7 linked regions of the Homo sapiens genome follow. The protein of the gene in region 5 purifies or fractionates together with the protein of the main gene of each other region. This does not show direct contact. Each region holds a gene or a part of one and is shown on either strand. Other genes may lie near its edges. The genes, in order: HEMK1, FADS1, TAP2, GUF1, SLC9D1, DNAAF5 and DCAF8.

Region 1 (4,073 bases), on a different chromosome or scaffold from region 5:
CCACCAGGGCAAGGCAGGATCAGGATGATGGTGGAGTTCAGGGCACCAGTCTTACCCCAGGCTTCCTCCAGGGGGCACTGGGGCCCCATGACTTCAGGGACAGTGCCTTTCTAGACATGTATTTCCTCTCTGACTGTGTTGGCAGAGCCCAGAGGACAGAGGATTCCTGTTGGTCCCCTTGACTGTTATGTTCCAAGCTATCAACCCAGCCTCTAGGTCTGGCAATGGCCCAGAGTGCCTCAAATAGTGCTGCCCAAGTACTTAGCCTGTTCTGCCATTTCTCTGGGAGCCATCCCATGGCTCACCCAACCCACAGGGAACAAATGTCTTCCAGCAGCTTCTCAGGAGGCATGGAGGAAGTGGAGAGGGCTCCAGCCGGACACCTGGAGACCTGGTATCAGCTGTGCAACCTTGGGCAGGTCACTGCCCTCCTGCCATCTCTGGGCCCAGATGATGAGAGGGTTAGCCCTCCAGCCCAGAGAATCTGGTGGCCCTCTTAGGTCTACTGACTGGTCTGGTAATCACCTGTGTTGTCCCTCAAATTACTAGGACTAGGGATGTGTGGCGCAAGTGTGTTATCCCTTGGTAAGGCACCCTGGTCCTGGAAGAGACGCTTTATATGGCCCTTCTTGGACTCCCCTCTGACCTTGTAGATGACAGAGCTGGGAGCCAGAGGGCGCAGACCAGGGAGTAGAGCTGGGTGAGAGCTGGTGGGCAAGCCAGAGGGCGCCAGGTTCTGAGAAGGAGTGTTTCTAGAAAGACCTAGGCACACAAACATTTCTGGGAAAGGTTAGTTCCCATTCCCCTGCTGTGGCCAGGGGGCCCCAAACCCTTCTTTCACTTTCTCAGCTTCTGTCCCCTAGCCAAGAAACTCTCTGACCCCTCTCCTCTCCATATCATGTGGTTGGGAGGCCAGGTCCTTGCTTCACTGCCCAGTGTCAGGGCAGGGACAGTAGGGAATCTGAGGCCTTGCTGAAGTCACAGGGCTGTCAAGGAAGGGAGCATGGGGGCAGCACGTGGACTTCCTGACTCCCAGCTCAGAGCCCCATCCCTCACATGGGGCTGCCCCATCTGGGATTGGCATGACCTAGGACACAGTATGGAGACCCAGAGCAGGGTGTGGCCTGCCACCTGCAGACTTTGGGAGGCTTACCTGTGGCTCCTGAAAACACGTGATCTCTGGCGAAGAGATCATTTGCTGTCTCCGGCTTCCCAGGGTCAGGGCATGGTGACTTTTGAGTTCCTTCAGAGCTGACCTGGCACCAGCCATATGTGCCAGGGTTCTGAGTATCAAGTGTGGACTTTGGCTCCCATGTGGCCCCCTGATTCTTGGATGGGTCTGGGCCAAGAGAGCAGCTCTACTGCAAGGGGTGGGGTGAGGGGAGATGCTGCGATTGGGAGGCCAGGTGCTCATCTTGCTGTGCAGACATTTCTGAGAACTCACCAGGTTCACCCCAATGTAAAGCCACATCGGGGGATGCCTTACCAAGAACTCAAGAGGACGTGGCCTGTGGCAGGGAGTAGTGAGAATGGGTGCAGGGGATGGTTTCTGATGAAAGGGGAGTCTGAAGTGCAAACTTGCAGGAGGCATGTGCCCAGTGAGTTGCATTTTCCCTAAGGGTGAGAAGGTGGTTCAGCCCCTGGCCTGGCAGTGAATACAGTAGGAAACTCAGGGCTGGGGGTGTGAACCATTCTCACCCAGCCTGCTGTGAGGCTGTACAGGTTGTGGGAGGCTCAGTGTTTTGTCTGTGATTGGCTTGAAGGAGGCAATGCCACCTCCCTGGGTCTGCCCCACCAGGGATGCCATCCTAATAGAGGGTACTCATGGGCACTTAGGTTCTGCCCAGGCCTTGGGCCAGCCTCTTGATGGGGTATGGAGTCCATGTTGGGGCAGCAGTTCTAGGCAGAGCCAACAACTGCCTGCCCCTCACCTCTTTCCCGCATGCGTCTGTGCCCCACCCTGTTCTTGGATTCTTACCATATTCACCTGGAGGGGGTGCCCTGAGCCTGTGACCAGCATGGCTTTTAGTCTTGCCGAAAGAGCCACCAGCGTTAGGCTGAGGGAGGCTCTTCACTAGGAGGAGAAGAGAAAGTTTCTGGACTCCTTGGGCTGTTATCTACCCCTGCCCCAGGTGGCTCTACAACCAAGATGAGTTTCCGGTGCTCTGGAGTGTTATGGCAAACAAGAGGCCACTAGTGGTGGCAGGGGCTCAGTTTCTTAGCTTCTTACCCTCCCCAAGGTGGCCATCCACATACGTGGTGTGTGTCTTTGAGGTCTTTGAGTATCTCTGTGAGGTGGCTGGCCAGTGTGGCTGGCTGAGGGGTCATTCTCCAGCCAGAGTAGGTCTGTCTATGACCAGGAAACCAAGAGAGGCTTACACACCTGACAACAACTGGTCACCCTACCAACCTCTCAGCTTGTGGCCTCACCACTGAGACCACAGGCTCTCAGCCACAGCCCTATACTGCTCACTCTGTACCTGGCCCAACCTTGCAGGCTAAGCTTGCCACAAGTACCTTAGTGGTCTCCAGTAGTGCCTGGCACAGGGCTGGTGAGAGCTAGTGAATACACACTCTCTCCTGCTGGAACTGGGCCCCCTCACCCACAGGCAATCATTTGTTAGGTGCAGAAGAGGCTTGGAACATGGAGGGTTGGACCTGCTGGCCAAGTTCTGCCTGCTTTGGACTTGCCACCCTCAGGGTGGGTGAACATTGTTGCTGGGTTTGGGGGCCTGGAAGGGTGAGATGCTTTTTGGAACCCAGCACTGGGGAACTTATGTGGAAAATGGGTGTGAGTGATCTGGAGCCCTCTGCTCCATTGGGCCTGGCTGATGGCATTGGGGTGTGGGGGAGACCTGGGGGTGTGAGACTCAGAGGGTGGTGCCACAGAGAGCTTGCCCATCACTTAGAAAGTAGCCAAGAGGGCCAGGCGCTGTGGCTTACACCTGTAATCCCAGCACTTTGGGAGGCTGAGGCGGGTAGATCACCTGAGGTCGGGAGTTCGAGACCAGCCTGACCAACGTGGAGAAACCCTGTCTCTACTAAAAATACAAAATTAGCCAGGCACAATGGTGCATGCCTGTAATCCCAGCTACTTGGGAAGGCTGAGACAGGCGAATCGCTTGAACTTGGGAGGCGGAGGTTGCGGTGAGCCAAGATCGCGCCATTGTACTCCAGCCTGGGCAACAGAGCGAAACTCTGTCTCAAAAAAAAAAAGAAAAGAAAAGAAAAAAAGAAAGTAGCCAAGAGGTTTGTCTGTGGGCCAAGCCCTGCCAGTGTGGGACACACTGCGATGAGTCAGACCTCAGGTCTTCCTATTATGGCGTCTGGTGGGAGAGGCACACCCCATCCTTAGGCTAGACCTTAGGCTCAGGGTGGAGAAAGCCGTGGTAGAGCCTGGCCCAGGCTTGAGGAAGGCTTTCTGGAATAGGTAGTCCTCTTTTCAGATCAGGGAAGCACCCACTTGCTGCCCACCATCCCCAGCTCCCTGAGCCAGTCTTTCCTGAGACCTGGGGTCCCAGGAGTCCTGACCCTCTGGGGGGCTTCTCTGCCCACATCCAAAGGGATGCCTTTGAGAAGGAGCTACACTGCCCTTTCCTTGTCTCATGCCTGGCTACTCAGGTGTCCCACTCCACTGCTGGTTAGAAAAATTTTGGCCATTGGACGGCAGGAGCCTTCCACCCTTTACCCCTACCCTATGTTGGTTTACAGGCATAGTCCTTGCAGGCAGTGGCTGGGTAGGCAAGGCTTGAAACCCTCTTGTTTCCAAAGTGACAGTGTCTGAAAATGTCCTCCTGCTGCCAGGGCAGGTACAGTGCAGTCAGGCACCTCCCTCTGCACCCATGCCTGTTGACCTATGCCTGTGTATGCCACAGCCCTCAGGTCCTTAGTCAGGACCATGTCCCCCCATGGCCCATCTCCTCCAAAAGAGGGAATTCCCTGTCCCTTTGGCCTAGGAGCCTCCCTGGGGGCCTCTCAAGCCCAGCTCTGTGAGGAGGCTGGGGACACACCAGCTCCTGATTCTTGGCCACCATGAAACCACAGGCCAGGCTCAGGTGGGGCCTTGACCCCAG
Region 2 (4,073 bases), on a different chromosome or scaffold from region 5:
GCTGACCACCCAGGAAATCAGGCTGGGGATCAGCAGGGTGGGAAGAAGTACTCAGTGAATGAATGTTCCAGATATTGGACATGAAAGAAGAGTAAGACAGTCCAGCCCTGGACAGAGAAGACTGTGACAAGAAGGATACCTAAGTGTGGGAGAGAAATACAAAGTGCAAGGGGAATACTTGCCTGGGGCAAGAGTGTCAAAAAAGCACCTCCAGGAGGTGCCATCAGCACCTTCAAGGATAGGCTATCTCATCATTTGGATCCTTCTGGTCATCCGCTGGATCCTTTGCAAAATGAGGTGCCTTTTATGCAGTAACGGTTTGCTGACTGAACTCTCTAGGGAGGATGGTGACTCCCTCCTGGGCAGCCCCCATCTATTGCCTGTTGCCTTCCAGAACTTCCAAAATGGCAAAAGCCCCAGCCAGCCCAGCCCCAGTGTCTTGCCCACACTGACAACATCGTGGGCATCTTCCCCAACTCCCCTATGTTGGCTGCCTCCTATTCCCCAAGACCTTTCCACTGATACCTCCACGCACCTCCACAGAGAGGATCTTCCCCAAGGCAAAGAAGAAGGGATGCATGTTGATGTCTGGGTCTTTGCGGAAGCAGTTGGGCTTGGCATGGTGCTGGAAGTGCATGTGGTTCCACCAACTGGCGGGGGCCCCCTACAGAAAAGCAGGGACACGAGTATGAAAAGCTTCCCCCAAGGCAGCCCTTCATTGCCTGGAGTTTTAGAGAGCTCCTCCCCATCCCACTGACCTTCAGGTGGCCAATCACAAAATGATGTAGCAGATGGTTCCACTTTGAGGTGCTGAAGACCGACAGGTGCCCAAAGTCATGCTGCAGCCAGCCAGCCTGGGCCTAGGTGAGAAGAGTCAACACTGAGAGCAGCCCACCAGCCCCAGTGTCGCCTTCACTGACCTCGATGCCTCCTTCAGCCTCTCCCACTTCCTTCATCTGCCAAGGCCTGTGATGCACCTCAGGAGTCAGGAAACATGGGTCCTAGTTCTGCCTCTGCCACTGACTCACACGTGAGTTGGGGCAAATCACCATCCCTTCTCTGTTCTTCTGTTTCGCCAGCTCCGAAGCTCATGACTTTTTTTTTTTGAGACAGTTTTGTTCTTGTTGCCCAGGCTGGAGTGCAATGGTGCGGTTTCAGATCACTGCAACCTCCGCCTCCTGGGTTCAAGTAATTCTCCTGCCTCAGCCTCCCAAGTAGCTGGGATTACAGGTGCCCGCCACCAAGCCTGGCTGATTTTTTTGTATTTTTAGTAAGAGTCGAGGTTTCACCATGTTAGCCAGGCTGGTCTCGAACTCCTGACCTCAGGTGATCTGCCCACCTTGGCCTCCCAAACTGCTGGGATAACAGGCGTGAGCCACCATACCTGGCCTGTTTTGAGAGTGTCGCTCTGTTGCCCAGGCTGGAGTGCAATGGTGCCAACTCGGCTCACTGCAACCTTCGCTTCCCAGGTTCAAGCAATTCTCCTGCCTCAGCCTCCCATGTAGCTGGGATTACAGGCACCCACCACCACTCCCAGCTAACTGTTGTATTTTAATAGAGACGGGGTTTCACCATGTTGGCCAGGTGGTCTTGAACTCCTCACCTCAAATGATCTGCCCATCTTGGCCTCCCAAGGTACTGGTATTACAGGCGTGAGCCACTGTGCCTGGCCTTTTTGTATTTTTAGTAGAGGTTTCACCACGTTGGCCAGGCTGGTCTTGAACTGAGATCAAGTGATCCGGCCACCTTGGCCTCCCAAAGTGCTAGGATTACAGACATGAGTCACCACACCTGGCCTGAAGCTCATGACTTATGATGGACTGACATCTAGAATACAGAAAGGACTGAAACATGAGCAGAAGGCTTGCCAAATGGGTCCTGACAGTCAAGAATTAGCGCTCAATCATTATTAACATATTGGGCAATGTCAGTGGTGGGGAGGGAGCCAAGCTTTGCTAAGAAACCAGAAACTTGGCTCCTGGCACAGGTGGGCTGTGGCAGAGAACAAACCGCATAGGAAGAAGAGAACCCTTGGAGAAGCAGCTAAAAAGGCAGTGAGAGAAATGAAGATGTCCATGTGGCTAAAGAGCAGACAGGTCAAGACAGCAGAATGCATGTTCCTGCACTCACTCCTGCATACCTTCAGATCTGCCCTGCTTGGAGGGCAGGCACTCTTGGCCTTCCTCAAACACCCAAGGAGCTTTCCCCAGGGATGCTGAGCATTGCTGTGCACTTGACAAGCCAAAGGCTCTCACCTGAACTGCACTGAGCAGCACCGCACAGAGGAGGAAGGGCAAAAAGGACGTCCCAAAGACCCAAAGGGTGAGCCAGGCTGCACCATCCAGCAGCAAGATGTGCAGCAGGTACAGCAGGAAGAAGACATGGTTGGCCTTCATGAGCCCCATCCGCTCCACTGTGGCCCGCAGCTCCCGGAACTCATCTGTCAGCTCTTTCTGCAGAAGAGGAAGAGGAGCTGTTATTCTTCTCATCTGCACCCCAATGCTACTGGAGACAAGGGCCCTCTCAGGCTCAAGGACCTCCCACTGAGGTAGCTGTGGGAAGTCCACAGTCCTAGGCAAAGATACCACGACAATGAGGATGACAGGAGGAGGTGCCATGGGATAGTGCCTAAGAGTTCAGGGGACTAAGTCCTTGCTCTGCCATTTACTAACTGTGTGATCCTTGGCTGTGTTGCTTAACCTCCCTGAGCCTGTTATCTCATCTGTAAATGTGTAAGAGTTATGAGTTTATGCTTGGTGCATAGTAAGTGCTCATATGATAACAATGATGATAACAATGATGGCAGCCATGGTAGTGGCAGCCTTGGGGGAGCCATAGGTTGCAAAGCCATGCTCCCTTGGGCCTGTGACCTCATGACTATGCAAGAGAAGCAGGGACCTCAAGACTCCCCAGAGCTACTACTGACTGTGATTACTATGACTGTGATCCCATCTAGACTCTCCTTCCACCCCCTCTCTGTCCCCCTCAACAACCAATAGTTGCGACATAGCAAACACAGGGTCTTACATTCTTGGTGGGCTCAAAGCTGGGCTGCTCTGGAGACAGTTCTCCAATCAGGAGAGAGTTCATATACTTCTTCACAAGGCCCTTGTTGATGTGGAAGGCCACAAAGGGATCCTGCAAGTGCCGGGAGAAGATGAAAGGTGAGGGAGCCAGCCCCCTGGACTCCGGCAGTGTTCGCACCAAAGGCCATCCTCCTGCCCGCCAGAAGGCTGTACCCAAGTTGAAGTGAGAGGTGAAGCCAGATGGACTTCCTGGGTCGAGTGCAGACTTGGAGAACTTTTCTGTAGCTAGAGGTTTGTAAAATGCACCAATCCGTGCTCTTTAGCTAGCTAGAGGTAAAATGGACCAATCAGCACCCTGTAAAATGGACCAATCAGTGCTCTATAAAATGGACAAATCAGCAGGACATGGGCAGGGACAAATAAGGGAATAAAAGCTGCTCCCGGCCGGGCGCGGTGGCTCACGCCTGTAATCCCAGCACTTTGGGAGGCCAAGGCGGGTGGATCACGAGGTCAGGAGATCGAGACCATCCTGGCTAACACAGTGAAACCCCGTCTCTACTAAAAATACAAAAAATTAGCCGGGCGAGGTAGCGGGCGCCTGTAGTCCCAGCTACTCGGGAGGCTGAGGCAGGAGAATGGCGTGAACCCCGGGGGAGGGCGGAGCCTGCAGTGAGCCGAGATCGCGCCACTGCACTCCAGCCTGGGCGACAGGGAGACTCCGTCTCAAAAAAAAAAAAAAAAAAAAAGGCTGCTCCCCCTCACACCCCCCAACGTCCAGCAGCGGCAACCTGCTCGGGTACCCTTCCACGCTGTGGAAGCTTTGTTCTTTGCTCTTCACAATAAATCTTGCTGCTGCTCACTCTTTGGGTCCACGCCACCTGTAAGAGCTGTAACACTCACCGCGAAGGTTCATGGCTTCATTCTTGACGTCAGCGAGACCACGAGCCCACCTGAAGGAACCAACTCCTGACACAGAAGCACAGGCCATCTCCCTAGGCCCAGCTGCCTTTTGAGGGTGCTCCCAGGTGTCCACAGTTTAAGATCACC
Region 3 (4,073 bases), on a different chromosome or scaffold from region 5:
ATCCTGATTTAAGCAAAGTATAATAAACACACTCATACACATATACTACATGGATACCACAAGTGGAAATTTGACAATTGACTATTTGATAAATTTTAAGAACTACTGTTAATTTTTTGGTGTGATAATGGCTTTGTTGTTATACACTTTTAAAGATGTTTGTATTTTTAAGAAACATACTGAAATATTTACAGATGAAAGTATACAATATCTTGGATTTGCTTCAGAATAATATGGGTGGGGGGAAGTGGCTGGGGATACAGATCCAACAAGATTGGGCATGAGTTGATCATTGTTAAAGCACAGGATGTATACATGTGAGTTTGTAATATTATTTTGTCTCATTTTTGGCATATGTTTAAAATTCTCCATAGCAAAATTACTTGCGGGTTTTGGTTTTGTATTGTATTGTTAAAAAGAACAAATAAAGCCCAAGGCCCAGGAGTCCACAAAGAAAAAGAGAGGGAAAAAAGGAGAGCAGGCTTGGCTTCTCGCTCACCTGCACATAGCTCCCCACGCTCTCCTGGTAGATCATAAAGGAAAGCAGGCTGCCCTGGGTGAGCTCCCCATCCTGCATCTGCTGCAGCCCACAGCTCAGCATCAGCATCTGCACCCCCAAGTGCAGCACCTGGAAGAGGAGAAGAAAGAGATGAGGCTGGGAATCTTCCCATTCTTTCCCCCTCTCTGCCTCTATGAGACTGAGCTGCAAAGGCCTCTAGAACCAGCTGTAGTTTCCTCTTCCCTTGCCCTCCCCCTTTCCTGGGCTCCTTTCACAACCACTCTGGTATCTTACCCTCCTTACGAGCAGGTACAAGGCGCGTTCCAGGTCTCTCCGCCAATACAGCTGCCGACATTGTTCAAGGGCCTCTTTATAGCGACAGACTTCATGCTCCTCGGCCCCAAAACTGCGAACGGTCTGCAGCCCTCCAACGGCTTCCCGCACCACCTGCCCCGCCCTGGCCACTGCATCCTGGATCTCCCGAAGCACTTCCTGGAAAAGAGGGCCAGCAAACACCAGGGCTGATGTGCAAAGACAGCAGGCCCCCACATCTTACTCCAGCCAGTGAGATGCTCCCTAGTCTACCTAAAAATACCAAACTGTTTCTCTCCCTCTTCCTTACTCTTCTTTCCAGAAGGAATAAGAGTGAAGGAGCAAGGGAACAAAATATTATTGAGCTCTCAGTGTTAGGTAGTATAGGAGATACATGCAATTTTTTTAACCTTCATTTGAGGTAATTTTCCCATCCCCAGTGTCTGAATCAGGAAAGAAGGGTAGTTTTCCCAAGGAGCCACAGATAGTTAAGAAAGGTGGAGATGTAATTCCAAATGGATCAGAGGCCTAAACATAAGAGCTAACACTATAAAACTCCTAGGAAAATGTAGAAGAAAAGCCTCATGCCACTAGATTTGGCAGTGATTTCTTGGATATAACACCAAACGCACAGGCAACAAAAAATAGATAAATCAGACTTCATCAGAATTTAAAACGTTTGTGCATCAAAGAACTCTAGCAACAGAGTGAAAAAGCAACCATGAAATACAAGAAAATATTTGTGAATCATATATCTGATAGGAAATTAATAGGCAAAACATATAGTGAACTCCCACAACTTAAAAAAAAATCAGAAAATGGGCAAAGAACTTGCAGACATTCTTTCAAGAAAGAAACATAAGTGGCCAAAATCACACGAAAAGATGCTCAATATTTACTAATCATTAGGGAAATGCAAATCAAAACCACAATGAGATAATCCTAATCACCTAATCACCATTAGAATGGCTATTAAAAAAAAAGACAACAGAAAGTGGTGTTGATGAGGATGTGGAGAAATTGGAAACCTTATGCACTGCTGGTGGGAATTTAAAATGGTGCTGCCGCTATGGAAAACTGTATGGTGGTTTGATACGATCTGGCTGTGTCCCTACCCATATCTGATCTTGAATTCCCATGTGTTGTGGGAGGGACTGGGTAGGAGGTAATTGAATCATGAGGGCAAGTCTTTCCCATGCTGTTCTTGTGATATTGAATAAGTCTCACGAGATATAATGGTTTTAAAAAGGGGAATTCCCCTGCACAAGCTGTCTTTTCTCTTGTCTGCTGCCATGTGAAATGTGTCTTTCACCTTCCGCCATGATTTGAGGTCTTCCCAGCCACATGGAACTGTAAGTCCAATAAACCTCTTTCTTTTGTAAATTGCCCAATCTTGGGTATGTCTTTATCAGCAGCGTAAAAATGGACTAATACATGGTTCCTCAAAAATTGTTAAATAGAATTGCCATATGATCCAGCAGCTCCACTTCTAAGTATATACCCAAAAGAACCAAAAGCAGGGTTTCAAACAGGTGTACACTCATGTCCACAGCAGCATAATTCACAACAGCCAAAAGGTGGAAACAACGCAAATGTCCATTGACAGATGAATGGATAATCAAAATGTGATATATGCACACAACAGAATATTATTCAGCCTTAAAAGGGAGGAAATTCTAACACATGCTACAATATGGATGAGGCCTGAAGACATTACGCTAAGTAAAATATGCCAGTCACAAAAAGACAAATACTGTATGGTTCCACTTACGTACCGCACCGGGAGTCATCACAATTCATGGAGACAGAAGGTACAATGGAGGTTGCCAGCGGCCAGGGGTTGGGGGTAGTAGGCAGTTACTATTTAGTGGGTACAGAGTTTCATTTTAGGAAGATGAAAAAAGTTCTGGAGATGGATGGTGATGATGGTTACCCAATAACAATGTGGGTTTCCTAAATGTCACTGAACTGTACACTTCAAATGGTTGAAATGGTAAATTTTATGTTATGTATGTTTTACCACAATATAAGAGAAAAAGAGAAGGTGGAGCTGACATTCAGACTTAGGACTTCCTGATGACGCCTCCTTTCCCTATGCTGCATCCAGACTTCTTCTGCTGATTTTAAAGGGAAAATCTCCCTGCCTAAAAGCCTCTAAGAAACCATTTTTAATCTTCGCAGTGGGGGCGGGGGATGTACAGACTCCTTTGAGAAGCTAATGAAAAGTTATCATCGCCTATCATCTCCCCTTCCTATTCCCTCCCCCATACCTTCACATACACTTTACATTTTTGTTTACAGTTCTGGAGAATCATGAATCTTCTGAAGTCAAATATCCATTGTTGGATGGCTGGACAAACAAAATGTAGTATATACTACAATATACCTTCTCCCCTAATGGCTGAGAAGAGAACATCTCTCTCTAGGGGATCCTCTAGCCACAAATGTGGAAGCCTCCTCACCTGTCAGTTTTATTCTCCCTTTGGGGTTCCCTTACATGCACGCTCACCTGATGGCGGGTGTTGTACACCTTCTCCGCTGCTATTGTGAAGGGCATGTGCAGCAGAGAAAGGAGGGTGAGTCGAGGCGATATGCTGAGCATGAAGCCATACAGCCCCACCACTTTCACCAGGCTTCGCAAGAGCACATTGGCATTTAAAGGAAGCCAGTTACTCATCAGGGTGGTATCCGAGCTCAGCCGTGAGTTCAGCTCCCCTAAGAAGGACAGAGCAGGTGAGGAAAAAGGAAACCATGTGTACTGCAGGGCCCCCAGAAACTCCCTCCTGACCGTTCCCTCTGACACAGCCCCCTCCTCTGAACATCCTCCTTCACTTGCAGAGGGACAGTGGAGGCTGCTTCTCCACCCTGTCCCAAACAAGAGAAAAGCATCCCCAAGTCCTGGCATACGGGTGAAGGCAGGAGGAGAGGCTGTGGGTGGAAGGTCACTGAGGGGCAAGGGATGTCCATGGGAATCTCAGACCTGGACTCCAGGCCCCACCTGTCTTAGTCTCCTGGAAGAAACCGAGGTCCTGGCGCAGCAGGGAGGAGAAAAGCTGCTCCCGGATCCGCAAGTTGATTCGAGACATGGTGTAGGTGAAGCAGCCTCCTCGGCAGCCTGCAGACAGTGAGCTGTGGGGTAGGAGAATAAGAGGGGAGGGAGATGCAGAGAAGGAGCAAGCCAGCGGGTGAAACAGAGGAGCAAGCCAGGAGTGCAGAGAAGCGCAAAGTCAGGGGAAAGCATGCCAGGAGGGGCAAAAGAGAA
Region 4 (4,073 bases), on a different chromosome or scaffold from region 5:
TCTAGGCCAGTTGCATAATCAGTGTAAAGGTGATCTCTTAAGGAGGTTCAAATGGAACTTACTTATAAATCTCTCTTACTCTCTGAATCATGAACAACTTCTCTGATTTAAAAAAGTAATGTATGATTACAGAATATTTAGAAATACAACATTAGACAATAGAAACTGTTCTTGATTCTCTTTCCTTACCCGCTGAAAACGGTTAAACATTTTGGAATGATTATTTTAAACAGTTATCTTTCTAATCACTTTTTTGCATTTTTTTGTATGATCAGTGTTTACGATATATTCTACCCTCTTTATATTTAACAGACATTTTTATGTCACTAAATATTACTCCACAAGTTTTAATGGCTGAAAATAACAATATGGGTGCTTTGTAATTCATTTTAACCAATCTGCTGTTTCTTGAACACGTGGGGGTTTTCCTTTTTATAATTTTTTTACAAATATAAAAGGGCGCGGTGGCTTACGCCTGTAAATCCAGCACTTTGGGAGGCCGAGGCGGGCAGATCAGAGGTCAAGAGATCGAGACCATCCTGGCCAATATGGTGAAACCCCATCTCTACTAAAAATACAAAAATTAGCCGGGCATGGTAGCATGCGCTTGTAGTCCCAGCTACTCAGGAGGCTGAGGCAGGAGAATTGCTTGAACCCGGGAGGCGGAGGTTGCAGTGAGCAGAAATTGCGCCACTGCACTCCAGCCTGGCAACAGAATGAGACTCCCATCTAAAAAAAAAACAAAACAAAACAAAAAAACTTGTTCCCAATTCTAAATCCATCATTATAAAATGTTTAAAACTTTTTTTAATATGGTGAAGGGAAACATTTCTATGACACTGTTCTTTTTGACTATTATAGCTCTGTTCTATTTTTAGCAGTCTAGAGAGAAGTGTGGAAAAAAAAGAGAAAGCAAAGTTAGTAGGGTGAACTCTATTTTAATTACCTTAGAAGTTTTTTAAATGCAGCTGCTCAAACAAAAATAAATGAAAAACATATCAAAAGTATTTTCACATTCCATGATTAGTTTCTATTGAACTTACTTGTGTACAACAGTTACTAGCTCCTCTACAGTATTTCCATTCAGTAGAATATCCATTTTTACAAGTTCTGCAGTCTGGTAGCCTGCATCTTCGTAATCAAAACTAAAAGGAAAAAAGTCCAAGTGATAAATATTACACTTCCTGAGAGATTACCTTTATTACTCTTTACTCTTTACTAAATGTCTACTTTCTACCGCATTACACTCCCCAAAGAGATATGTTTCCATCAAAATATTACATATACAGTTTCTTGTGAATGGATCTAAATGTTATCTTTTTATGTTTATTAAATCAAGGGCAAAAGCAAGGGGAATATGTTTATAGGGGAAAGGAAAATAAGCTGGTGAACCTGACAAAGAAAATGGTTTATTGAAGACAAATATCATGCCTTCCCAATGTTCCCAGCAGCTGGGAGGCTTCGGACAATACTATATATTATTAATGGATCATTTTCAGATTCATGAGTTGGGTTTCTGTTTAACTTTCTATTACCAATGACAACTCTATGTTTAAATAAATGCTATGACACTCATAAAATGCCATTAATAAATGAGACCTTTGGATTTCCTATTTGGCTCTTCAGCTTGCATCTCCCTTCACAGGGCTTTTGTGAGGATTAAATGAGTTAATACATGTAAACCAATTAGAGCAATGCCTAGTACATAATAAGTGTTTAAACAGAGCCTAGCTTAGCACACACAAGCACTTAGTTTCAGCTATTACTTTTAACAATGTGGTCAAAGCTTGTAATGTTAGTCAAAACAGACATTTAAATGTTTCACTTATAAAACTGAAGTCTAAAGAAAATTTCAATTAGGCTTACAAGTTGTCCCAATCACAGACAAGAATATGTATACTCCTATTGTCTTAATTTTAAAACAATTGGTGCCTGGACTTGCAAAATTATATTTGGTTTCTAAAGATTTTCAGCAGGAAGGTCATAAAGTGACAATAATACACTCTATTAACAGATTATTTTCAGAAGTACTGTTAAAATCCTTTCTTTCTTCAGGAAGCATCACTTATACATTTACTGTATGAAAGATACCATGTTAAGTATCATACAGAATACAAAGCAAATAGAGAATAAAACAGACATGGTCCTTAACTTTGAAGTTGTTACAGCTCCAGCTATGTTGTGGTCCAAAATATTAAAAATCTTAAAAATTTCTTAACTCATTTTTTCAAAAGAAATCATTATAAAAATTGTGTTTTTGTTTCCAAGCAGTCCAATTGATACCTAACCTCTATTGAAAACATAGGTATTCTAGTGTTTCCTTAGAATGCAGGAAACACATTTGTAATTCCAAAAAGCTACTAGTTGCTGTTGATTCTTGCCTCCTGGTATGAAATAAGTTTTTTCCTGATCTTAATTCATAGTCTATGATGACTTTCTGTTAAGTGTGGAATTGACTGCCTATGTAAAACATCCATCTTGAACATAATTACCTTAATGCTGGAAGCTGGAATATTTTATTTTTATGTAGTTCAAAAATAAATCATGTTCTCTCATTAAATTCAAAATGTATTTAAGTTTCCAAACGACAAGGCTTTTTAAGACCACTTATAATTCAGAAAGTAGTACCCAAATGCAAACTAAAATTGACAGACTTCTGTTAAAAATATTTATAAACATTAAACCTACTAATCTTCCTTTCAACTCTAGTAATTTTAATATGCCCCTCAATTCATTTTACTTTAAATTCCATTGCCACTTACTTGCTCAAGGTCTTGTCTGAAAGAAGACATAGAAGAAGAAAAAACTGGGTGACAAAGTAGAAGAAAATTCTCAATACAAAGGAACATGAAGATTCCTTGGTAAGAAGAATTATATATGCTAACTCTCTTCACTGACAAGATGATTAAATAAAGTTAAACTTCCAAGTCACTGTAGCATGTTTGTTAAACACTGGAATTTGTCTCTGCATGTTAACATTAACATTCATGCACTGTGTGGGAGTTTTATAGATGTCAATGTTCATTTTTCCCCTCCTGCTTCCCCATGTTTCACATCTGTTTTCTATATATACTATCCCGTAACATAAGATTTTAGGGCATAGTGAGGGTATCTAGAGTTATATGCCCCAACAACAACAACAACAACAAAAAACAGCCTCTCAGAATGCTATGCCCTGAGTTTCTTATTTGTTATTTAATAGTAACTCTCCTTTCACTTTTATCTGGCTTTTCTCCATGTACTCCTATGAGATACACAAAGGTTTTCGTGATGAGGACAACCTGTTCCTCAAAAGACTAAGTTATTAAAGTGTTCACTAATGGAGCGGCACATCTAACATTTTTTACAGACTGAATATGCACTTTTATTTTTCAAATGTAAATAGATGCTCTTGAGATTGCATAACATAAATATACATTTTAAAAGTGCCACTGAGGTTATGGTAAATTTTTGAAATTAGGTCTAATTCTTAACAGACAAGGAATACAGCTCTTCATGAAAAGGGGACTAACTTTTTTTGTTAAAAGAGAAATAAAAGTTAGATAATAAATCAAAGGAAACTTTTCTCCTATAAGCAAATCACAAGTAGTCTGTAACACCTATAAAGTTGTTCCAAGTCATTCTAACCTTAGAGTATGATTCTCAACTATCTTCAAGAAAGCTGAAATTACTAAATAAATGAAGAATTAGTATACCCTTGCTCATCAATATTTCAAAAAAGTTGGTCAGGCATCTTAGGTTCTCATTATTTTTTTACCTAGCATATCCAGAAGATAGGGATTTCAAAGAGTCATAAAAATCTACCACAATTTCATTCAAAGGAAAGAGATATTTAAGCATAACTCTATTTTGATCAATAAATATCATATTCTTCTGAACTGCTCTTCGAGCCTAAAAAGGGAAGGAAGAAAATGGGTTTAATGATAACCTACTCAAATACTGAGGAATGATGTATTTCTCTAAAGGTCTAGTAAAAACTTATAGGCAGTATTTATAATCCAGAGAGAAACATTTTATATTTCAATTGCATTAGGCTTGCTACCAAAGCTTTTAATCTTTATCTAACAATTTTA
Region 5 (4,073 bases):
TTTAAGTGATATATCTAATAGAAATTGACATGAAATTATTTCATTTAAAAGTTACAATAAAAGGCAAATAGACATCCGTATTTGTCTCATTTTAGAAAACATAGGCTTTAAGAATCAAAAGTAAGCTTCCAAGCTCACGGCCAGGATTACAACTTCATATTACAGAAATGTTTAATAACAAATATTTGACTAACAGATTATAATTCTGAAGTTGTACATTTTTAAAAGCCTTTTAATTTTGCTTCTTTACTAAAAAAACTATGAACTGATGAACTCACAATAGAAAATTAATAATAATTTCAGGGAAAAAAAAAAAAGGCACATCCAGGCACCACATTCAAGGTGATCGGTAAAACGCAGTGTCCCGGGTCTACTGCACATAATCAACAGACTGCAAATAAACTACTCCGGAAAATTCTAAAATAGGACAAGAATATTCTGTAAAAGCCGGGATAACACGACTGCACTGACGCTCTGCTAGAGGGCTGTTCTGTTGCCAAGGTGCGAGCTTCCCAGAAGGAGCAGCTGCTGGCCATCTAAGCGCTCACTCCCCACAGACGCTTCCCTTCCACGGTCCATCATCTCCGAGCCATCAGAGGCTGGACCGTCTCTCCGGTCTGGGCACACACCTCGTGATTGCAGCTCTCCACAGCACCGGGGCGAGCAAGAGGCTGAGCGTGGTCACACTCAGTATAAGGAGGTACACCTGCAACAGCAAAGTGCAGAGCGGGTCACAGAGACTGTCAGGACTAGCACCTGCAACAGGAAAGCACAGGGCTGGTCTCACTGAGCTGGGAGGGACGCCTGCAAAGCTAGAGTCCTGAGGCTGAGCACAGTCACGCTGAGTGCTGGGAGGGATGCCTGCACGGGGGGGTGGGGGATGGAAGCTAAGCGCGGTCATGCCGAGTGCTGGGAGGGACGCCTGCACATCATAAATTCACTACTATCTCTTTAAAGCACATGGAAGTACAGCCAGAAGCTGAGGACATTGGGATGTAGGAGAGACTGTGATTTCAAGATCAGTGATGCATGGTTAGTCCTGATGGGCCACAGGATAACAGCTTTAGCCTGTGTTTGCCTGAAGGCCAACCCCGGGCCACAGTAACAAGCCAGCCTGCCCCACAGCTTCCCTGACCCTGGGGATGCGGCCTTGGGTCAGGCCTCAGGTGGAGCTTCCTGTAAGCAATTCTACCTTTCAGCAATTACTTCCACTGCACTCAACACCTGGACTTCTACCCGCCTCACACTTACACAATGCAAGGAGACAAGGCCGTGAGTCCGAATGCCCAGGGCCATCTCAGTGTCCACAGGAACCTCCACCCAGCTCTCCGGGCACACTGCCATTACGGGTATTTCACGTTTCTGGGGTGCTACTTATGTGCACACTGGCAGTTCAGCTTTAAAAAGTTAGTTTTCTTTCAGAAGAAATATCTGACATTTAATTAGACTTGTTGTAAAAGGTTAATGCAATAGTTCAAGCAGTACTAACTGCAACTTTCCTCTGAAAACGCCACATGCTGGATGAGCAGAGAGCAGCCAGGCCTCTGCGTGCCCCCCTGGAGGAGGACCCTGCCCCCAGGCCCCGCTGTGCTGCCGAGCCGCCTTCGCCACACCCGACTCAAACCCAGAGTGCAGCCCGTGCCGCCCGAGAAGCGCTCCGCGGGGGGAAGCCACTCACCTCCCGAGAGATGACGCCCGCTCTTCGCGCCCGGCTCCCCAGGACAAAGGAAAACTCGCTGACCTGGGCAAGCCCCGCAGAGACGATCCACTTGATGTACTGGCTGCTCCTCGGCAGAATGAGAGACAGGACCAGCGCCGCCAGGAGAAACTGCAAGAGCGGTTCATTACGTCACTGCTGAAGACTGGACCCACACAGAGTTAAACACACACGAAACAGAGAACCCAGACGAGCCACAGGCACGCTGCGATGGTCCCTGAATAACACGTCAAGTAGGGAAAGGCACAGAAGCACTCCAAACACCCGAAGGCACCAAATACACGCAAAACCTCTTAAATAATCCACACTGAACAATAAGGCAAAATTAAGCCTTTCGGTTCATTAGCAGAAAATAATAAGCCTTGCCCAAGCCCCCCCGCCCCCGCCCCAACCAAACTAGATTAATAGCATTAAGCGTGGGGTACTCAAGGTGGAAATTTCTTTTTAATACAGAGAGATGTGTGTCTCTGGGCCGAGCAGCTAAGAGCTGGTGGTGTGTCTTTGGGCCGAGTAGCTAAGAGCTGGTGGAGTGGTCCAACGATCATCACAGCTTCTGGCTCCTTAAAACGGAAATGACCTAAGTCACTGTCTATGAGCCAGAAAGCCACTGGTTGCTGACTAGGTCATCACACCTTCAATTAAATGTGGACACAGGCAGCTCGATCACTGGCAGTCACGGGGGACAGACAGAAAGTGCCTACACCATTTTCCAGTCTTTAAAAAGCATGTCTGCATCTGTCAGAGGAGGACGGGCTGGACTGCAGCCAAGGCCCGTCCTGAGGGTCCCAAAAGGTTAGTTCCCCCCTTTAAACACGCTCAATTCTGAAACAATCGATCACATGGACAAACCCAGACCGCCCAGCCTCGTCTACATCTGCCTCCCCCGGGGTCCAGTGGCCCAGTGGGCCTCCTCCGAGATGAGGAGCAGGGCCGGCTCTGCAGGCCCGATGTGGGCCCCACTGGAAACCAGGGCCACAGGGAGGGCTATGCTGAGCCTGCAAACTGCGAGGGGCGTGGACCCTTCCAGTCCATACCTTCATCACCACCACTGACAAGGTGAGGAACACCAGCACCGTGAGCTCGTACGCCACAAACGTGGGGAACACGTGGAGCCCTGTTGGGAACAGGACAGACACGTTACGACCGCAGGACAGCCTCCCCCAGCGCACACTATTTCTCACAACTTCAGTGTGTCACTTGCTTCAATACAGGAATTAAAATCCTAAATCCTCCCAAGTGCACGTGTGAAAGCAACAGCAAATGCTAAAAAGCCGCCCCTTTCCTGAGCGAACCGGGGAAAAGCCTGCCCTGGGATGACCTGTCTGATGTGGTGGGATCCCAGCTCCACTCCCTGCAACAGGCCTCAACTGCAGAGGACACAGCAAAACACACAGAGGCGGCACTCGGTCTGGCACTCCTTCAGGAAATATTCCAGCTGAGGTGCAGATGATCCCAGAGCCCACAGCCCCACAGTGCCCAGGAGTGCCCAGGAGTGCCACGCTCACAGGACGCCTGTGGTCAATGTTCCTTTCCTTCCTTTATTTGGCTCACACATTTTTAAAAACAATGGGAAACGTTGTCTCCACATATTTCTTCTCTCTGCTCTCAGGACTCTCGGACTGGGCTGCTCAGTCCTGCTGTGCTGCCGAGTGACGCAGAGGGGCCGGCGGTGCTGGGGCTGGACCTGAGCTTGGGCTCAGCTCTCCAGCCACAGCCTGGAGCTGCCCAGTGATGCATGTCAGCCCTCGGAGGAAGCCCGGCAGCCCAGAGGCCTCCTCTTGATCGGAAGGACCCAGACCCCAGGGTTAGGTGCACGGAGCAGGCCCATGACCTTTCTGCCGTTCACAAACCACTGTCTCTACCTGACCCAGAAACACAAATGTAAACACTGGCCTTTTTTCTCTTGCCACGACCCGGGGTTCTCTTGCGCTTGAGGGCTGCCTTCTCTGGCCACCCAGTCTTCTAGCCACGGCCCCTCCTCCTGGGTCTGGGTCTCAGAGCTGCCCCCTCCATGCCCACTCCCAGTGCTCCCCACGGCCCCTCCTACCCCGGCCACCAGCCTGGCCCCACTGTGTCCCCCTCATCAGCCCCAGCCCCACGGCGGCCTGGGGTCCACCTCCCTCTCTCCCCAGCTGTCAGCTGAGCCCCGGCCCCAGTCCTGCTTCCCCTCAGGATGTCTGTGCCTCTGCCCTGCTGCAATGCCCGGTCCAGGCTGCCTTTGGCCACACTGGTGTCTAGGAAGTCACTACCGTCACGGCCCTATGTCCACGCCGGCACAACTGAGACAAGCTCACAACAGTGTATGGCACAGGGGACGCTCCCACCTCTCCCCAAAGGGGGCCTCACATCGCGGCCA
Region 6 (4,073 bases), on a different chromosome or scaffold from region 5:
CTATCAGTTTAAAATAATGGGTTATGTTATTTGCAAGCCTCATGGTAACTTCAAATAAAAAACGCCACAACAGATACACACACACACAAAAAAGAAATTAAAACATACCGCCAGAGAAAATCATCTTCATAAAAAGGAAAACAAGAAGGCAAGAAGGAAGGAAGAGCAGACCACGAAACAACCAGAAAACAACAAAACGGCAGGAGTAAGTCCTTACTTATCAATAACAACATTGAACGTAACCAGACTAAACTCTCCATTCAAAAGACAGAGCGGCTGAATGGGTAAAGAAAAACAGGACCCAGCAATCTGTTGCCTACAAGAAATACACGTCACTAAAAAGGCACACGTAGGCTGAAAATAAAGGGATGCGAAAAAAGATATTCCATACAAATGGAAAGCAAGAAAGAGCAGGAATAGCTACACTTAAGACAAAACAGATTTCAAGACGAAAACTATACTAAGAGACAAAGGTCATCATATAATGATAAAGGGGTCAACTCAGCAAGAGGATATAACAACTTTAAATATATATGCACCCAACACTGGAGTATCCAGATATATAAACCAAATATTACTAGAGCTAAAGAGAGAGACAGACTCCAACACAGTAACAGCTAGAGGCTTCAATGCCCCACTTCCAGTACTGGACAAATCATCCAGAGAGAAAATCAACAAAGAAACATCAGACTTAATCTGTACTATAGATCTAATGGACCTCATAGGTATTTATAGAACATTGCATCCAACAGCTACAGAATACACATTCTTCTCCTCAGCACACAGATCATTTTCAAGGACAGACCATATGTTAGGCCACGAAACAAGCCTTAAAACATGAAACTAGAAATTAATAACAAGAACTTTGGAAACTACACAAATACATGGAAATTAAATAATATGCTCCTGAATGACCGGTGGGTCAATGAAGAAATTAAGAAGGAAATTTTAAAAATTCTTAAATGAAAATGGAAACACAATATGCAAAAACAGCAAAAGCAGCACTAAGAGGCAAGTGTATAGCAATTAGCACCTACATTCAAAGAGCAGATAACTTCAAACAGCAACCTAACACTGCATCGTAAAGAACTAGGAAAGCAAGAGCAAACCAAACCCAAAATTAGTAGAAGACAAGAAATAAGAGCAGAAATAAATGAAATTGAAATTAAAAAAAATACAAAAGACCAACAAAATGAACAGTTAGATTTTTGGACAAGCAAAATCAACACACCTTTAACCAGACTAAGAAAAAGAGAAGACCCAAGTAAATAAAATCAGAGATCGAAGAGGACATTACAAACAACTGATACTACAGAAATTCAAAGCATCATTAGAGACTGTGAGCAACTACACTGTGAGCAATGACATCGTGAGCAGCGACACTGTGAGCAGCTACACCATGAAGAAAACCGTGAGCAACAATATCAGCAACTACAATATGAGCAACGACACCATGAGCAGCTACACCGGGAGCAGCTACACCATGAACAACTACACCGTGAGCAGCGACGTTGTAAGCAGCTACACCATGAAGAACAACACCATGAGCAATATGAGCAACTACAATATGAGCAACGACACCATGAGCAGCTACACCGTGAGCAGCTACACCATGAACTACACCGTGAGCAATGACATCGTGAGCGGCGACACTGTGAGCAGCTACACCATGAAGAACAACACCACGAGCAACGGTATGAGCAACTACAATATAAGCAATGACACCGTGAGCAGCTACACCGTGAGCAGCTACACCATGAGCAGCTACACCATGAACTACACCGTGAGCAATGACATCGTGAGTGGCGACACTGTGAGCAGCTACACCATGAAGAACACCATGAGCAACAGTATGAGCAACTACAATATGAGCAACGACACTGTGAGCAGCTACACCGTGAGCAGCTACACCATGAACTACACCGTGAGCAATGACATCGTGAGCAGCGACACTGTGAGCAGCTATACCATGAAGAACAACACTATGAGCAACAATATGAGCAACTACAATATGAGCAACGACACTGTGAGCAACACCGTGAGCAGCTACACTGTGAGCAACTATACTGTGAGCAACTATATGCCAATAAATTGGAAAACCTAGAAGAAATGGATAAATTCCTAGACACATATGACCTACACAGATTAAATCATAAATCCAAACCTTGAACAGACCAGTAACAAGTAATGATATTGAAGCCGCAATGAAAAGCCACTGAGCAAAGAAAAGCCCGGGTCGCAATATTTCACTGCCAAATGTTATCAAACGTTTAAAGAACTAATGTCACTCCTACTCAAACTATTCCAAGAACTAGAAGAGGAAGGAATACCTCCAAACTTAATTTATGAGGCCAGTACTACCCTGATACCAGAACCAGCCAGATGCAATCGAAAAGGAAAACTACAGGACAATATCCCTGATGAACACTGACGCAAAGTTTCCACTGTTTCAACAGCACATGAGAAAGATCATTTGTCATGACCAAGTGAGATTTATTCCAGGAATGCAAGGATGGCTCAACATACACAAATCCATCAATGTGACACATCATATCGGCAGAATGAAGGACAAGAACTACGTGATTATTTCAAGTGATGCTGAAAAGTATTGATAAAATTCAACATCCCTACATGATAAAAATCTTCAAAAAACTGGGTATAGAAGGAACACACCTCAGTACAATAAAAGCCATATACAAGACTCACAGCTAGTACCACACTGAATGGGGAAAAATTGAAAGCCTTTCTTCTAAATCTGGAGCAAGACAAGGATGCTCGCTTTCACCACTGTTAGTTAACACAGTACTGGAAGCTCTAGCTAGAACAATTAGACAAGAAAAATAAAGGGAATCCAAATTGAAAAGGAAGATAATTATTCTTGTTTGCAGATGATATAATCTTACATTTGGAAAAACCTAAAGATTCCACAAAAAACCTATTAGAACAGATAAACAAATTCAGTAAAGTTGCAGGATACAAAATCACCAAAAAAGCCCCAGTAGCATTTCTACATGCCAACAGTTAACAAATCTGAAAAAGAAATCAAGAAAGTAATTCCATTTACAATAGCTACAAACAAAATAAGATACCTAGGAATTAACTTAACCAAAGAAGTGAAAGATCTCTACAATGAAAACTATAAGGCCAGGCGCAGTGGCTCACACCTGTAATCCCAGCACTTTGGGAGGCTGAGGCAGTCGGATCACGAAGTCAGGAGATTGAGACCATCCTGGCTAACATGGTGAAACTGTCTCTACTAAAAACACAAAAAATTAGCCAGGTGCGGTGGCAGGCACCTGTAGTCCCAGCTACTCGGGAGGCTGAGGAAGGAGAATGGCGTGAACCTGGGAGGCGGAGCTTGCAGTAAGCAGAGATCGCACCACTGCACTCCACCCTGGATGACAGAGCGAGACTGTCTCAAAAAAAAGAAAGAAAACTATAAACCACTGACATGAGAAAACTGAAGAGGACACACACAAAAAATGGTAACATACTCCATGGACTGGAAGAATCAATATTGTCCATACTACCCAAAATGTCCATACTACCCAAAGCAATTTACAGACTCAACGCAATCCCTATCAAAATACCAATGACATTCTTCACAGAAATAGAAAAAATAATCCTAAATTTATATGGAACCTCGAAAGACGTTGAATAGCCAAAGCCATCCTGAGCAAAAAACAAAACAAGACAAAAACAAACAAAAAACTGGAGGGATCACATTACCTGACTTCAATTTATACTACAGAGCTACAGCGACCAGAACAGCTTGGCACTGGCATAAAAACAGACACACAGACCAATGGAACAGAATAGAGAAGCCAGAAATTAAATCCATACATTTACAGTGAACTTATTTTGACAAAGGTGCCAAGGACATATCTTGGGGAGAGGACAGTTTCTTCAATAAATGGTGCTGGGAAAACTGGAACTCCATATGCAGAAAAATGAAACTGGACCCCTATCTCTCACCATGTACAAAAATCAAATCAAAATAGATTAAAGACCTCAATCTAAGACCTCAAACTATGAAACCACTAAAAGAAAACATTGGGGAAACTCTCTGGGAC
Region 7 (4,073 bases), on a different chromosome or scaffold from region 5:
TCCAGAAACAGTGCTATTTGTGAACTGAGAGTTTGAGCAGGTAAGCTGAAGCTCTCACACAAGAGGAATAAACCACTAGCACCTTGAAACTGTCAAAATACCCTAAAAAATCACAATAAATGTAAAAGGTTTAGAGGGCACAGGAGACCTCAAAGATCTCCAAACCAACTAGGGCTTAGCTTAGGGGCCAAATACTATGAATGCATGATCTAGGGACTTTTCAGATACTTGCCTTCCTAGGAGTTTAGGGTGGCTGCTTTTGCTCCTTTCTTAACCACAAATCTTAGGACTGAAAGAGGTGAGGCACATGACCACAACAAATGTGACACAATGGGCAGAGATAAGGGAGAACCTTGGCTGAGAACCACAGAGGATTTGGATTGCACAAATTTTGGAGCAAGGTCTTACTTACCTTGTGGGACGCTCCCTTGTGCTGGGCCACACGTTTTGTATTCTTGCAACACTGTGTGGCAGACAGTTCTGCTACTCGAACCTGCCCGTCACGGGCACACATGGCCAGAGTAGAATCACCACTGTTAGGAAGAAACTTGGCCTGGGGTGTTAAAAATGAAAAAAAGGACACACAAAAGAAATGAGAGAGGTAAACTTGAGAATAAAAAATACGATGATGACCTCAACTTACCCCCTTTTCTTACATGACAGCTGGAAACTTAGCTTTCCTACTCTTGTACAGCTGGCTAAGCCCAATTTCTTCCAGGAGTTAAAGGAAAGGGAGAGAAAAAACTTCCTTTGATGTAAGAGAGCATTTCAGTTGGCTCTGGAAGATTGAACTGGCACATGATAAGAGCTCAGATGAACTAGGACTGTATCTAGCAGAGGAGAAAAGGAATAGAGGAGGAAAAATCTACTTTGATTAAGAAAGTAAATATAAATTTGCTACAAAGAAAAAGGAAAATAGGGGGAATGTCAGGGAAGAAAAGAGAACACCCTTAGGATAAATGGCTGGTACCAGTACAGTAGATGGGGCCAAGGAGTAAAATCTTTCCAGAATAACAACAGTATAAGCTAACATTTATCAAATGTTTATTAAGTACCAGTCACAGTTCTAACTGCTTAGCTTCTATTGTTACTTAATCCTCATAACCCTATGTGTTATTAGTCCCATTTTACAGATAAACTGAAGACAAAGGTAAAATAACTTGGCCAAGATCACTGAGCTAGTAAGCAGAAGGGCTAGGATTTGAACTCAGGCAGTTTGGTTCAAGAGCCTGTGCTTATACTACACTGCCTCCTACCAGCACACATTTAATAAGCTGCATGCACCCTACCTATGAGGCTTCCAACAGTCCACATGCTCAAGGAATCTAGGGTTGCCAAGAGTCTTTCAGTGTATTTAGGTCATTAGGGGAGCCAAAGTAGGGCCATGTCCCGATATGTAATTCCTACAATAACTCACTATCAGCTCCCAATCCATGCTGCAGTTCAGATTTCTCTAACTCATGCCTGATTCTCTCAGTTGCTATTATGCTCCCTTGCCTCACCTGGAACACATTACTTTTGTGGCCACTCTCAAAGTCCAGTACTGGCTGCCGCCGTACCCAATCCCACACCACCACCTTCAGGTCATCGCTGCCACTGGCCAGCCAGGTGCCGCGCTGGTTAAAGTGCAGGGTATTGACACAACCAGTATGGCCCTCAAGCCCATGCTGCAGGCGGAAACGCTGCACAAAGACTCTTGCCCCACAGGCCTCATAGACAAAGCGGGCACTTGAACCCAGCTCCCGCTCCCGAAGGGCAGGGAGGGCTTGCCAGCGAGGTCGGGGTAGAGCTGATGTTTCTGAGGACACCCAGTCCTCTAGGGCCCGCTCATCATCTGATGAGTCCTGGTCACGGTTAGCCCGCTTGCGCTGTACACGGCGCCGAGGCTGCTCTTCTTCCTCCTCTTCTTCCTCCTCTTCCTCTTCCTCTGAGCGGTCATGGACTCGATTTTCATCATTAATGGAGTAATGACCAGTGTCCTCCATGCTGTCAGAGTCCTTATCTTCACCTGAGCTCTCTGTGTCTGTGCCTCGACTTTCTGTGCTGGTGCGGTTGGGGCCACCATCATCCCCAGTCAAGCTCAAACTCAGGTCTGAGGCCTCCACTTCAATGCCTGAGGATGTCTCCCTCCCCTCTTCAGCTCCAGACATCTCCTCTGGACTGCTAGACAGGCTTCCTGCATGTTAGTGAGGAAGGAGTAGAGGAGAGGGAAAAATAAGAAAACAGGATAGTGACCACCTTAGTCTAAGAAATCTTCACATCAAAAGACCAAAAAATGAACTTTGGTCCAAGTGTTTTCATTACAAATAATTACAGAGAGTACCCTCTGAGGGGAAATCTTGTAAAGGACAAGAAATTGAAAAGATTAAGATCAAATCCACACACATAAAATACTTCAACAAAAGCAAAGAATCTCAGGACAATCTAAGATTATATTAAGTTCTCAAGAGGCAAAACATTGGCATATTGTATAAAAGTGTGCCTGATACATCTACCATTGGCTCTGTTGTATTGGATGGGCATTTATTAAGTTATAGCAAATAATTAAACAGAATATAAAAAGAAGAGCCAACTCCAGCAAGAGCTAGCATAGCCATCTTCTTAGCGAAAGACGGAAACCAGCTGATAAAAATCACTCTTGACTTATGGATGTGGTGTTGCACCATTTCCTACTTTAAGAAAGTATCAGGCCAGGCACGGTGGCTCACGCCTGTAATCCCAGCACTTTGGGAGGCCGAGGCACGTGGATCACGAGGTTAGGAGATCGAGACCATCCTGGCTAACATGGTGAAACCCCGTCTCTACTAAAAATACAAAAAATTAGCCGGGCGCCTGTAGTCCCAGCTACTCAGGAGGATGAGGCAGTAGAATGGCATGAACCCAGGAGGCAGAGCTTGCAGTGAGCCAAAGTCGCACCACTGCACTCTAGCCTGGGCGACAAAGCGAGACTCCATCTCAAAAAAAAGAAAGTACCACTACACCTTCTGTCACCTAAATCCTAAGCTTCTTCCCCACCTAAGTTTCTAAAATTCACTAAGAAAGCAAGCTGAAGGGGTAAGTGGGAATTGTGATCATTTGAGTGGGTTCTTGCTCACCTTTTGCTAGTAAATATATTTTGACTTACTTCCATTAGTTTGAATTTTTTAATATAATTCTTAGTCACACATTTTTAGTCTCTCTATTGAGACAGTTTTATTAGGAAGCATATATAAAATTGATAAAAAGCTGGGCTACTATAGTGGTGCCTAAGACGAAAGTTCAGTATATTCTAGGTCTGCTATGCTGATAGTTAAATAACTAGGTCACTTTTATCGATCTTATCTCCTATAACTACATACTGCATTCTCTTAACTCACAACAGTCAAGTCAATTCCAATGAGAACTTGAGGAATGTTCTAAAGCCAATACAACCACAACTTCCAACCTAAGTCAAGGTGTGAAGAAAAAAGGGGAGAATAAAGATTTTAAATGCTGCTCATGGGCCTCCTTTCCTCAGATGGCTATAAATTTTATCCGCCAGAAGTAAAAGCTGTCAGGAAAGGCAGACCATCCAGTATGAGCTATTCAACTCCAATACCACACTGATGTTTAAGGATTCAAAGGTGGAGCACCTTATTGCCTAGTCATGTGGATTAGAGCAGTAATTTGTGAAGAGCTCTGAAGCAATGTACTCTTAAGCAAAACCCAATACTGAAAAAAGATCAACAATACAAGTGCTTTGATTCAAGCAGTAACAGAAGCCCAGAAGACATAAACAGTTCTTGCAGGCTGGGCGCGGTGGCTAACACCTGTAATCCCAGCGCTTTGGGAGGCCAAGGCGGGTGGATCACCTAAGGTCAGGAGTTCAAGACCAGCCCGGCTAACATGGTGAAACCCCCATTTCTACTAGAAATACAAAAAATTAGCCGGGCGTGGTGGCATGTGCCTGTAATCCCAGCTACTTGGGAGGCTGAGGCAGAAGAATCGCTTGAACCTGGGAGGTGGAGGCTGCAGTGAGCCGAGATTGTGCCACCGTACTCCAGCTTGGTAACAAGAGCAAAACTCTGTCTCAAAAAAAAAAAAAAAAGCCTCAA

Evidence for each region.
Region 1: the proteins of SLC9D1 (region 5) and HEMK1 purify together in Homo sapiens (affinity purification with mass spectrometry; 2 studies listed by BioGRID and IntAct, with this or other methods). This does not show direct contact.
Region 2: the proteins of SLC9D1 (region 5) and FADS1 purify together in Homo sapiens (affinity purification with mass spectrometry; 2 studies listed by BioGRID and IntAct, with this or other methods). This does not show direct contact.
Region 3: the proteins of SLC9D1 (region 5) and TAP2 purify together in Homo sapiens (affinity purification with mass spectrometry; 2 studies listed by BioGRID and IntAct, with this or other methods). This does not show direct contact.
Region 4: the proteins of SLC9D1 (region 5) and GUF1 purify together in Homo sapiens (affinity purification with mass spectrometry; 2 studies listed by BioGRID and IntAct, with this or other methods). This does not show direct contact.
Region 6: the proteins of SLC9D1 (region 5) and DNAAF5 purify together in Homo sapiens (affinity purification with mass spectrometry; 2 studies listed by BioGRID and IntAct, with this or other methods). This does not show direct contact.
Region 7: the proteins of SLC9D1 (region 5) and DCAF8 purify together in Homo sapiens (affinity purification with mass spectrometry; 2 studies listed by BioGRID and IntAct, with this or other methods). This does not show direct contact.

The regions. Positions count from the first base shown.
Region 1 is NC_000003.12:50,572,218-50,576,290, forward strand, and holds part of HEMK1 (MTRF1L release factor glutamine methyltransferase), read left to right. Parts: intron 1-1,153; coding exon of another isoform or gene 1,154-1,609; exon of another isoform or gene 1,610-2,483; intron 2,484-4,073. Other genes in the region: uncharacterized protein C3orf18, read right to left, coding at 1,154-1,609. UniProt on the Homo sapiens protein: N5-glutamine methyltransferase responsible for the methylation of the glutamine residue in the universally conserved GGQ motif of the mitochondrial translation release factors MTRF1, MTRF1L, MRPL58/ICT1 and MTRFR.
Region 2 is NC_000011.10:61,810,216-61,814,288, forward strand, and holds part of FADS1 (acyl-CoA (8-3)-desaturase), read right to left. Parts: intron 3,354-4,073; exon of another isoform or gene 3,139-3,353; coding exon 3,028-3,138; intron 2,454-3,027; coding exon 2,256-2,453; intron 861-2,255; coding exon 759-860; intron 665-758; coding exon 536-664; intron 1-535.
Region 3 is NC_000006.12:32,831,834-32,835,906, forward strand, and holds part of TAP2 (antigen peptide transporter 2), read right to left. Parts: intron 3,941-4,073; coding exon 3,810-3,940; intron 3,527-3,809; coding exon 3,321-3,526; intron 992-3,320; coding exon 794-991; intron 629-793; coding exon 500-628; intron 1-499. UniProt on the Homo sapiens protein: ABC transporter associated with antigen processing. In complex with TAP1 mediates unidirectional translocation of peptide antigens from cytosol to endoplasmic reticulum (ER) for loading onto MHC class I (MHCI) molecules.
Region 4 is NC_000004.12:44,691,484-44,695,556, reverse strand, and holds part of GUF1 (translation factor GUF1, mitochondrial), read right to left. Parts: intron 3,892-4,073; coding exon 3,758-3,891; intron 1,146-3,757; coding exon 1,044-1,145; intron 1-1,043. UniProt on the Homo sapiens protein: Promotes mitochondrial protein synthesis. May act as a fidelity factor of the translation reaction, by catalyzing a one-codon backward translocation of tRNAs on improperly translocated ribosomes. Binds to mitochondrial ribosomes in a GTP-dependent manner.
Region 5 is NC_000013.11:113,546,058-113,550,130, reverse strand, and holds part of SLC9D1 (transmembrane and coiled-coil domain-containing protein 3 isoform 1 precursor), read right to left. Parts: intron 2,832-4,073; coding exon 2,752-2,831; intron 1,829-2,751; coding exon 1,679-1,828; intron 707-1,678; coding exon 593-706; coding exon of another isoform or gene 579-592; 3' UTR 1-578. UniProt on the Homo sapiens protein: Probable Na(+)/H(+) antiporter.
Region 6 is NC_000007.14:732,863-736,935, reverse strand, and holds part of DNAAF5 (dynein axonemal assembly factor 5), read right to left. Parts: intron 1-4,073. UniProt on the Homo sapiens protein: Cytoplasmic protein involved in the delivery of the dynein machinery to the motile cilium.
Region 7 is NC_000001.11:160,238,195-160,242,267, forward strand, and holds part of DCAF8 (DDB1- and CUL4-associated factor 8), read right to left. Parts: intron 2,177-4,073; coding exon 1,503-2,176; exon of another isoform or gene 1,028-1,502; intron 554-1,027; coding exon 413-553; intron 1-412. UniProt on the Homo sapiens protein: May function as a substrate receptor for CUL4-DDB1 E3 ubiquitin-protein ligase complex.